Regions from separate parts of the Homo sapiens genome. Here region 1 is linked to region 2. A link means that fine-mapping ties the variant in region 2 to the expression of a gene that starts in the linked region. Tissue or cell type: whole blood. Region 2 holds a variant in brackets; the other region holds the start of a gene. All regions are shown on one strand. Distances are between the middles of the regions.

Evidence for each region.
Region 1: it holds the start of IRS2, and the variant in region 2 is fine-mapped to the expression of IRS2 in whole blood (TOPMed, PIP above 0.99).

Annotation. Positions count from the first base shown.
Region 1 is chr13:109,784,425-109,789,721 of GRCh38, forward strand. IRS2 (insulin receptor substrate 2) reads right to left here and starts at 2,159. Exons shown (of 2, transcript NM_003749.3): 1 at 1-2,159. The coding sequence starts at 1,629. It overlaps LOC124903211 (WAS/WASL-interacting protein family member 1-like), which reads left to right and starts at 2,660. Exons shown (of 2, transcript XM_047430835.1): 1 at 2,660-3,021; 2 at 3,176-5,297. The coding sequence starts at 2,669. The coding sequence ends at 3,413. RefSeq lists an enhancer at 666-1,295 and silencers at 2,137-2,366, 2,387-2,556.
Region 2 is chr13:109,728,866-109,734,228 of GRCh38, forward strand. LINC00676 (long intergenic non-protein coding RNA 676) reads left to right here. Exons shown (of 3, transcript NR_103846.1): 2 at 168-327; 3 at 1,093-1,169. Among named protein-coding and RNA genes, the nearest start is that of LINC00676, 3.3 kb to the left of the region's middle. RefSeq lists an enhancer at 4,457-4,958. The variant G/A (reference allele first, on the strand shown) is at 3,133.

The DNA of each region.
Region 1 (5,297 bases), 56 kb after region 2:
CATGTACCCGTAGAACTCACCGCCGCCGCCGCCGTCTCGGGCCGGGGGCGTCTCCGCGATGGACTCGGGCGTGTTGCTTCGGTGGCTGCAGAAGGCGCGCAGGTCGCCTGGGCTGGAGCCGTACTCGTCCAGGGACATGAAGCCGGGGTCGCTGGGGGAGCCCGAGGCGGAGGCGCTGCCGCTGGAGGGCCGCTGGCCGGGGCCGTGGTGCAGCGGATGCGGCAGAGGCGGGTGCGGGCCGGGCGGCGGCGGGTAGGAGCCCGAGCCGTGGCCGCTGCTGGACGACAGGGAGCCGGGGCTGGTGGCGGCGGGCGGCGAGTGCGCCACGGGCATGGACATGGAGCGGCTGTGTTGCAGCGCGCCCCCTGCCGGCAGCAGCGCCACCTTGCTCCCGCGGCCGCCGCAGCCGCCGCTCAGGGTGTGCGAGCGGCTCAGGGGCGCGCGCACCGGCCCGGGGCTCAGGGGGCTCCCAGCCACCGACACCGGCCTGGCGCCCGCGGCCGCCGCTCCCGCCGCCGCGCCGCCGTCGCCCTCGCTGGCGGTGCGCACCCGGCACGAGCTGCACTTGGCCGCCGGCGGGGTGGCGGCCAGGCTGTCGGTGCGCGAGCGGCGCACCAGGCCCGTCTGGCTGGGGGGCAGGTTGACCAGGTGGTGGTGGCGGCGCGCGCCGGGGACGCTGATGGGGTGCGTGGCCGACGACCCCGACGATTGGCTCTTACTGCGCGGCCGGAACTCGAAGAGCTCCTTGAGCGCCTTCATGGCCTCCAGGATGGTCTCGTGGATGTTCTGCGCCACCACCGAGTCGTCCGCCTGCATCCACAGCTCGCCGGGGCCTGTGACGGCCGAGCGGCCCACCTCGATGAAGAAGAAGCTGTCCGAGTGGCCGCAGCGGCGGATGTTCATGAGCTGCAGCGTCACCGACGGCTGCTCGCAGTTGAGCTTCACGAAGCCGATGGTGCGCGCAGACAGGCACAGACGGTACACCCCCGTCAGGTTCTTGCTCTGGCCCAGACCCTTGGGCTTCAGGTTCACCTGCCACACCTCACGGTAGGCGGCCGTGGCGGGAGCCACCAGCCCGTAGCTGTCCTCGGCCCCGGCGGCGCCGGCAGAGCCGCCCAGGGCGCCGGGCAGGGAGGCGCTGCAGGACGCGGCGGGCGCGGCGGCGGGGGGCGCGTCTCCGGCGGCCGCGCGGCCCTCGCTGACCAGGTCGGTGAGCGCGCGGTACCAGCCCTCCTGCTCCTGCTCGTTCTCGGCGGCCACGGCGAAGTACTCGTCCTTGGTGTAGAGGGCGATCAGGTACTTGTGCTTGGCGTCGGCGCGCTTGTTGATGTTCAGGCAGCAGTCGAGAGCGATCACCCGTTTCGGCGCGCCTGCCTTGCTCCGCCACTTTTTCTCGCTCTCGTAGTACTCGAGCCGCGGCGGTTGCGGCGCCGACCCCCCGCCCGCCGTCGCCTCGTCGCCGCCCGCGCCGGGTCCGCGCAGCACGAAGAAGCGCTTGTGGCCATGCTTCTGCTTGCGCAGGTAGCCGCACTTGCGCACGCTGTGGTTGTTGTTGTTGTTGTTGTTGTTGAGGTTGGGGCCGTCTCCGCTCGCCGGCCCGGGCGGCCCGTGCCGCGGCGGGCTCGCCATCGCGGGCGCTTCAGGCCGCGCGGCCCGGGCCCGGCGCCCAGGGGTTGGGGCGAGGGGCGGAGGGGGCGCGGGCGGGGGCGGCTCCCTCCCACCCTTGCGCCCGGCCGCCCGCCCGATCACGCGTCCCTCGGGCCCAGGCGGTGGGGAAGGTCCGGGGAGGCCCGCGGGGGCCAGCACCGCTCGGCGGCGCCGCGCCCTCCGCGCTCTGGGGCTCCTGAGGATGCCCGGCGCGGGCGGTGGCCGCCCCCCTCCCCGGCTGCCTGCGGCCGCTGCCTCCTCGGGCTCTCGGGCGGCGCCGGGGGACGCGCTCGCTGGGCCGGGAGTCGGGGTCCCCGAGCCGCGGGGCCGAGCCTAAGGCGCGCGCGGCCGCACCGGGGCTGCTGCCGCCGCGTCGCGCTCCGGGAAGCCGGGGTGCGCCCGGGCGCTCGGGGTCCGCGCCGCCGCCGGGGCTGCTGCTGCTGCTGGTGTTGCTGCTGCTGCTGCCAACGGCGACCCGGGCTCGTCGCGGTCCCCGCCGCACAGTGAGTAACACATCGCGCACCGAGTGACTGAACTAAGAAGAGCAAAACAACATGTGACTCGGCGTTACGCAGGCACACACAGCGCGGCCGCCCCGCCCCGCTGCCTCGCATTGGCGCCGCGCCCCCCGACGGACGGCGCGCTCGGCCAATCGGCGCGGCGCTCGCGGGGGCGGGCCGCGCGCCCCCGCCCCGCCCCCCTTTCTCCCCGGGCCGCGTTTCCCGCCGTCCCCTCCCCCTCCCGCGAAGGCCCCGGCCCGGCCGGGCGGGGTGGGGCGGCCCCGGCCTCATTAATCAGCGGCTTGTTGTGGATGCCGGCGGAGGAGATGCCACCCAGGGCGGGAAAAGGGGCGCGGAAGAGGGGCGGGGCGGGCCACGGCGCGCAGGGCCCTTCCCTCCCGCCTCGGACTCAATTAATTGGGCTTGAGCTTCCGCCGGGGAGGGGGCGCCGGGCGGGGCCGCGGCTGGGCGGGGCGGGGGATCGGGATCGGCGGCGGGGGCTGCGGCCTTGCAGTGGAAGCATGGGCGGCGAGCCGGGCCGTGCTCTCGGGGCGCGGGGTCCCCATTTTGGGCGAGGGCGGCCGCTCCCGCGCTCGGGGTGGGCGCGCCCCATCCCCGTCCCCCGTTTCCCGTCCCCGTCTCCCGGCCGCATCTCCGTCCCCCCGCAGCCGCGAAACGCGGGGAGGTTCCAGGGCCCGCGGCCGCGGGTTCGCGAGCACCGCGCTCCAGATCGAGAGCGGCGCGCGCCCTTCCGTGGAGGACAGAGGGGCGCGGAGGGGGCGCCTGTGTCCCACCCGCTCGCGGGCGCTTTACGGGGCGTCCTCTGCGCCATTCACTTGTCAGCTTGTCGGGAAGTTGAAATCGCGTTTGGGAGGTAATAGGAGAAAGAGATCGGGGACGGCAGGCGGAGAAAGTGCGGTTTCCATAGCGCCGGGGAGAGGGCGGACCCGCGAGCCAGCGGTCCCTGAGCCGGGAGACCGCGCGGGCGTCTCTCCAGCCCCCGCAGGAGCGCCGCCTTCCTTCCGCAGGGGCGTCCTCTCCCCCCACCGCTGCAGGAGCACCCCCTTCCTTCCTCGGAAGCGTCCTCTCACCACACCGCTTCAAGAGCCCCCCCTTCCTTCCACAGGGGCGTCCTTTCCCCCTCCGAGGCAGGAGCGCCCCTTTTCCCCCCACAGGAGCGCCCTCCCCACCCCAGGAGCGCCCTGCGCCCAGCAGACGGGCAGGTGGGCGGGCGTCCACTACCTGTGTGCGCGGTGCGGGCGGTGACTGCCAAGTTGGAGATGCCCTTGGAGAACTGCTTCGAATTCATGTATCTACTGGGCTTTTGTGACTTTCAAAGCCTATAGCAAATAAGCACCCCTGCAATTACGTCTCCTCAATGACCAAGTCAGGGTGAGGTGAGGGCTTCCTGAGTTCAGATCCCAGCAAGCTCCCGATCCTGCGCAACGAAGAAAACTCAACAAAACAGGCTTTGGCTGTTTATTTTATTTTTTTTTTAATTGTGCCTTCATGAAATAATTTACAGCAATAATTTATCTTATAATATTGGTTATTGTTTTTAAGTCCCGGATGTTTACTTTTGGATGTCCTCTATAATTCATAGAAGTATCTTAAAAGTAATAAAATCTTAATCTAAGAGAAAATAAGTGTAATTTTTGAAAGAGTGATATATATTTTAATATGTTTTTGTAACATGTGACTTGAAGATTGTGTTGGCTAATTTTATGTGCCAAGAGAGCCCTGACTAGTACAAAGATTATAGCGTTTTTATTTTTAGCATGTATACAGTTAGGATTATTGATCAGTAGCCTGAATTTGGGAAGAATAATCATTGTGGCAAATATCACCCAGTGTGCCTCAAAAAGGTGTGTTTAAAGTTGATCTTCCATTTTTAAATCATACCTTAAAAAAAAATACCTCAAGAAATGCCATTTTAAGTCTGTGCACCTATGTGTGCATGTGTGCGTGTTTGTTTATATAATAGATTGTGTGATTGTGTGTGTATAGGTATGTGTGTATGATTGTGTGTGTTGGGGGCGCCACCTTTATGAACATTATGCTTCGGCGTTCTTTTTAGATCTTGTTACCTTTTCTTACGTTCACAAATGTTGCCTAGCAATATGTCTAGTCAGGAAAGATGAAGGGATTCTTATCTTGGTGCTTGAAGAAAATGTGGTGTAGTTTTATTGGCTTTGTGATCACTTACATCCCACTTTTATGAGGATGTAAATGGGCCACCTCTATGTTCCTGTATGTTGCCAGCCATCAGTAGACAATGCTAAAGGAACCACCACTTTTAAACATCATGTGATGGTTTCTTCTGAGAAAGTATATTTTGCAATCTTTTTCTTTTTCATGTTGACTTTTATTATGCAGTTGCATTTTCATATCCGTATTGAACATTTACTTGCTGTGCCTGTCACACGCTAGCAGGTGTCATCTTTTCCTGTTTGCTTGTTTCTTGGGGCCATCCTAGTGTTAAAGGCCAGTGTTTTTAAGGTGTCAGCAGCTCTGGATTGGCAGTTAGCACTTTCCCCATGTACTGCCTCAGTTACCAGACTGGGGACAAAAGAGAGAAGGTTAAAGAATTATCACCTATGTCCGTGGTATTCTGTCATAGAGAGTATAAATTTCCTACAGCAAACTGGAAATTAATTGCAATTCTGCAGTTAGAACCTCCAAATACAAATGTGGATGATACAATTTCAATTCTCATTGAGAGTCAGCCCATGAAACAAACCAACAGTAAGAAACTCTGTAATTAGAAGTATCCCAGTCCTCTTCCTCAACCGAGGAACTTGTTTTCTTTCCCCCTTTCTATTGCCAGATAAGCTATTTATTTATTTAAAGCTTGTTCTACACCTTGTGATTTTCCAACTGTTCTTCCATACTTTTTCAACAAAAGTCAGCTAATAACATCTGCCAACATGCTCTGCACGCAGGACTGGCTGGGGCTGGCATGGCCTCTTGCCAGCAAACAGCCTGGTTGAAATTTTTTCTCATGGTCCAAGATCTTTCCTTGGAAGCTTTCTTTCCTTTCACAGCTAATAAAATGGCCATATCTTTCAGCAGGGAGTTTTTTCTGTTTGTTTGTTTTTTCTATTTTTAACAGAATCATATACAATAATGATTATTTTATTAGAAGTCTTC
Region 2 (5,363 bases):
GGGTAGCTAAGAGGACTTTTCAGATATGTTGCTTTTGAGGTGTCTGTGAGGAGAGGGAGGCAGGAAACGCAGGCACACGCACTCACAGTGGACGCGTCTTTAGAAAGCTGCACATTCTCTAATTGAGTTAATTGTTCACGCACTGAATGGAGCTGTTTCTGCTCAAGCTAGGGAAAGACTTGTCAGCTGTTTCTTCACTTCCATGACCTTGGAAAATCCGCTGTCTCCACCAGACACTGATCCTTGGCACAGCCACTATTTGATACACTTAACTCTGCTCAGGATTTTAGATCTCAACCCAGGAAATGAGCTACAGTCTCACCCCAGGCAAGTACAGAACATTTTCCTAACCAGGAGAGACGCCTGTGTCACACATTCCAAAGGTAGCCAGCAGCTAAGAAAGCCGCAACAAAGGAAATCAAACAGCTCTCTCTCCCCTAAACGCTGCTTTCAGGCAAGTTCCAAACAAAAATGGAGGATGCACTGCAAATTAAAAACAAAAGCCTGCCAGTCAAAGGCAGTGTTTTTAAACACAGAAAGAGCAATACCACTGCAGGGGGCAGATAAAAGAGCTTTTGAGCATCTCAGAAGCTACTCACACACAAAAGCACCTCTGTGCCTTCAAACAGGATCTCCTAGAAGTTTCCCAAGGTTTCATAACCCAAATACCGCTGGTAGTGATGTGGTTTGGAAATTAACCTTGCTTTTCTCCCCACTGCTGTTTTACATATTAATTAAAGTGTTTTCCTCAGATCAGGAACGCCTGCAGGCTGGCTAGGTTCTGCAGAAGGTGCCTCATTTTCCTGCCGCTTCCCGCCCCGGCCCCACTTGTGCATAGTTCAATGATTAAAACTTCCCCAGGTCAGCTGTAGACGCCTCCCCTCCCTTAACTGCCATCGTGATATAGAACACACACTTTAATGTGGCTTTTAAAAAGTAATCGCTTCCCCACCCCCCAAGAAAGATAGGTCGTGCAGAGCTAATTTCGGGAAGCCATTTAGAAGAAATTGTTGAGAAGGCATTGAAGTATTTGGGTCCAACTCTGCTTACCTCATTCATGGACCTGTTTCTTTTCTTTTTTTTCTTTTCCAGTGCTTGAAATAGGTGTGCAAACAATTCACATATTATAAATACGTTGACTTGGGCCGGGTGTGGTGGCTCACGCCTGTAATCCCAGCACTTTAGGAGGCTGAGGCAGGAGGATTACTTGAGGTCAGGAGTTCCAGACAAGCCTGGCCAACATTGCAAAACCCTCTCTCTACTAAAGTACAAAAATTAGCCGGGCAAGGTGGTCCGTGCCTGTAATCTCAGCTACTCAGGAGGCTGAGGCAGGAGAATCGCTTAAACCCAGGAGATGGAAGTTGCAATGAGGCGAGATCACAACAACCCACTCCAGCCTGGGCGACAGAGCAAGACCCTGTCTCAAATAAATAACTAAAATGAAAATAAATAAATTGATTTGTTTTCATTCATATATTTTGGGGATACAATGGAGCTTAAAGTTTGAAAACCAAAACGGAGCTGGCCACCAAAGGTGTGGATTTGGTCAACAGGGTGTGGACTCCAGCAGCCCGTGTCACTCTCAGACTCCATGTCTCAATTTGAATGTTTCCATGTCACTTAAAAAGTAGAATATTCATAGTGATGTTGAAGATACAAAAGATATACCAGGATTAATTTTCTAGTCAATTTTATGTGTCTGTGACCCAAGACAATAAAAGTTAAGTCATCGTTAGTTCCTTAGTTGCTGGACACTTTAGCCCAATATACCACCTTCAATTTTGAATTATTATTTGGACTGTGTTCATGAGATTCTTGGAGTATGTTAAATCAACACATTTCTTTGTAATTATTGAGAACCTTTTGTTCCCTATAAAATCAAGTGTACGATGATGTAAACTATAAAACGCAAATTGTAGGGACAATTGGTAATCTGCAGTGAAAATAAAGTCAAAATAGCAAAGAGCAGATTATTCTCAAATTTATGTAACAGAGTTCTTACATGTGGAAGTGGATACAAGTATTAGCACATTCAGTTGATGTACTGAAAATAAAATGAAACTATTTTTCTACTTACTACTTGCTTGTGAAATCCAAAGGGGTGAATAAGAGCCAGGATTCATTGTCATGAGTGTAGGGGTGCCCTGGGAAGGAGGCCTCCATCCCACGTGTCAGTGGCGTCATCAGAAATTCCATGATCGTCGGCTTATTCTTTGCACACGTGTCTACAGGGTCCCTCCGCACACCGACTTGGTGTCCTCCAGGATGCAGAAAACCCAAATTAAACTAGTTTAATGAATAAGGAAACTAAGTGGCTCTTAGGACCATAAGCCCTGCGGTGACGCCTGCTTCAGGGCTGGAGGAGCTAAGTGTTCTCTGGTTCACCAAAGCCCCCAGTTCTTTCCGTCTGTCACTCATAGCTTCGGCTTCGTCCCCGGCTCACTGCCAGTGGTAATCAGGCTGCCCAAGAACTTCTGAAATCCACAGCCCGGTGTTTCCAAACGAATTATCAGTAGGGTTGGAATCCCTTCTCCCCAGCCCCAGCCCCAGCAAGGCCCTCCAACGCCACTGCAGTTCCCTGGATAGCAGGAAGAGGCCTGAGCCGGCTCTCCCGGAGCTCCAGGTGCAGAGTCTCCCCACATGGGAGTCAGTGTTCTCAGAGCAGCATTTGTTGACCTGAGCTAACCAAGTTCTCTAACTGAAAGCCTGGCTGTGTAAAGCCACAGATGTCTGGCATTAGAATAGCTCAAGGACAGGAGAAAAAACTGACAATCAGTCCAGAACGGCATCCCAGGACTTCTGCTCTGAGGAGAAAACAGGACTAAACCCCAGCTGAGGTCTATTTCCAACTCCAAGATTCTGCAATGTTATCTCTGTTTAAAAAGATATCCCACTTTTTGATGACAGTGTGTCTGGAATTGGTGGGTTCTTGGTCTCACTGACTTCAAGAATGCAGCTGCGGACCCTGGCGGTGAGTGTTACAGCTCTTAAAGGCGGCATGTCCGGAGTTTGTTCCTTCTAGGTGGGTTCCTGGTCTCTCTGGCTCAGGAGTGAAGCTGCAGACCTTAGCGGTAAGCTGTTACAGCTCTTAAGTCAGCGCGTCTGGAGTCGTTCGCTCCTCCCGGTGGGTTC[G/A]TGGTCTCGCTAGCCTCAGGAGTGCAGCTGCAGACCTTCGTGGTGACTGCTACAGCTCATAAAAGCAGTGTGGACCCAAAGACTGAGCAGTAGCAAGATTTATTGCAAAAGACGAATGAACAAAGCTTCCACACGACAGACACAAACCCTAACAGATTGCCACCGCTAGCTCGGAGAGCCTGCTTTTCTTCCCTTATCTGGCTCCACCCACATCCTGCTGATTGGCCCATTTTACAGAGAGCTGATTGGTCTGTTTTACAGAGAGCTGATTGGTCTGTTTTGACAGGGTGCTGATTGGTGCGTTTACAATCCTGAGCTAGACACAAAGGTTCTCCAAGTCCCCACCAGATTAGCTAGACACAGGGTGCTGATTGGTGCATTTACAAACCTTGAGCTAGATACAGAGTGCTGATTGGTGTATTCACAATCCCTTAGCTAGACATAAATGTTCTCCAAGTCCCCACCAGATCAGCTAGACACAGAGTGCTGATTGGTGCATTTACAAACCTTGAGCTAGATACAGAGTGCTGATTGGTGTATTTACAATCCCTTAGCTAGACATAAAGATTCTCCAAGTCCCCACCAGACTCAAGAGCCCAGCTGGCTTCACTCAGTGGATCCCGCCCGGGGGCTGCAGGTGGAGCTGTCTGCCAGTCCCACGCTGTGCGCCCGCACTCCTCAGCCCTTGGGCGGTTGTTGGGACTGGGCGCCGTGGAGCAGGGGGCGGCGCTCATAGGGGAGGCTCGGGCCGCCAGGAGCCCACGGCGGGGGTGCGGGGGCAGGCTCAGGCATGGCGGGCTGCAGGTCCCGAGCCCTGCCCTGCGGGGAGGCAGCTAAGGCCCGGCGAGAAATCGAGCGCAGCGCCGGTGGGCCGGCACTGCTGGGGGACCTGGCGCACCCTCCGCAGCTGCTGGCTCGGGTGCTAAGCCCCTCACTGCCCGGCCGCTCCGAGTGCGGGGCCCGCCAAGCCCACGCCCACCCGGAACTCTAGCTGGCCCGCAAGCGCCGCTCCCAGCCCTGGTTCCCGCCCGTGCCTCTCCCTCCACACCTCCCCGCAGGCTGAGGGAGCCGGCTCCTGCCTCAGCCATCCCAGGAGGGGGCTCCCACAGTGCAGCGGCGGGCTGAAGCGCTCCTCAAGCGCGGCCAGAATGGGCGCCGAGGCCGAGGAGGCACCGAGAGCGAGCAAGGCCTGTGAGGGCTGCCAGCATGCTGTCACCTCTCGACAGAGTCACAAAGCATTTACTGAATGCCTACTGTATGCCAGGCCCTTTTCTCAAGTCTGCTTAACCAGGAGTGAAGAAGGCTGACATTACCGTCCATGTCACATTCTGGTAGGAGAGGGATACAGAGAACACTACAAGTAGGTGAAATAGGTAGTACTTTAAAGAATGAGAACAACATGGAAAAGGAGGCTATGAAATACTGAGAATATGGCTGGAGTTTTCATTTTAGATAAGTAAATAGCCAAAGAAGCCTTGACTGAGGAAGCAGCCAGCCCTGTAAGAAAGGAGACCCCTGCCATGGTCCTGAGACAAGGGTTTGAGTGGTTTCCGCAGGAGGCATTTCCAGGAGGGGAAGGAGGGAAACAACGAGGGAAAAGTACAAGGTGTGCTCACCCCTGAATGAGTCCCCGGGGCAACCCGGATCCACCTGTCCAGGCTCCTCTGAGCACGTGGGGAGCACGTGGAGAGGGAGTGGGGGAGTCGTGGGGGAGCGTGGGCAGCGCTTGGGGGAGCCGTTGGGGACTTGGGGAGAGCGTGGAGAGCCGTGGGGAGGGCGTGGCGGAGCTGTCGGGGAGCCGTGGGGGCGCGCGTGGTCAGCACTTGGGGAGCGCATTGAGAGCCGTGGGGAGCACTGAGGGAGGATGCGGTGGCCACGGCTGCGTGGCACCCCCAGGCCATGGCCAGGAGACCCTCGGGCGGCGCAGGTGCCGGAAGCAGCGCCATCCGTGCTATGGACGGGTCCCCCCAATTGGCAGCGGTCTCGGGGGTGAGCCAGAGGATGGGGTGACTGAGAGGTGGCCGATGTGGGGATGGTGGTTTTCAAATAGAGGCGAGATCGGAGCAGGAGCTGGGAACCAAACCAGAAGGTTTTCAGGACGTGGTTAGACTTTGAAGCGGCCTAAGGCTGTGGCACATCTGACCCACTTTCTCACCAACATTGCGGTGGCTTCTTAGTAAGGAACGGGCTGAAAGGGGTAAGGGAAAGGGTGGGGGCAGGGCACTGGGAAA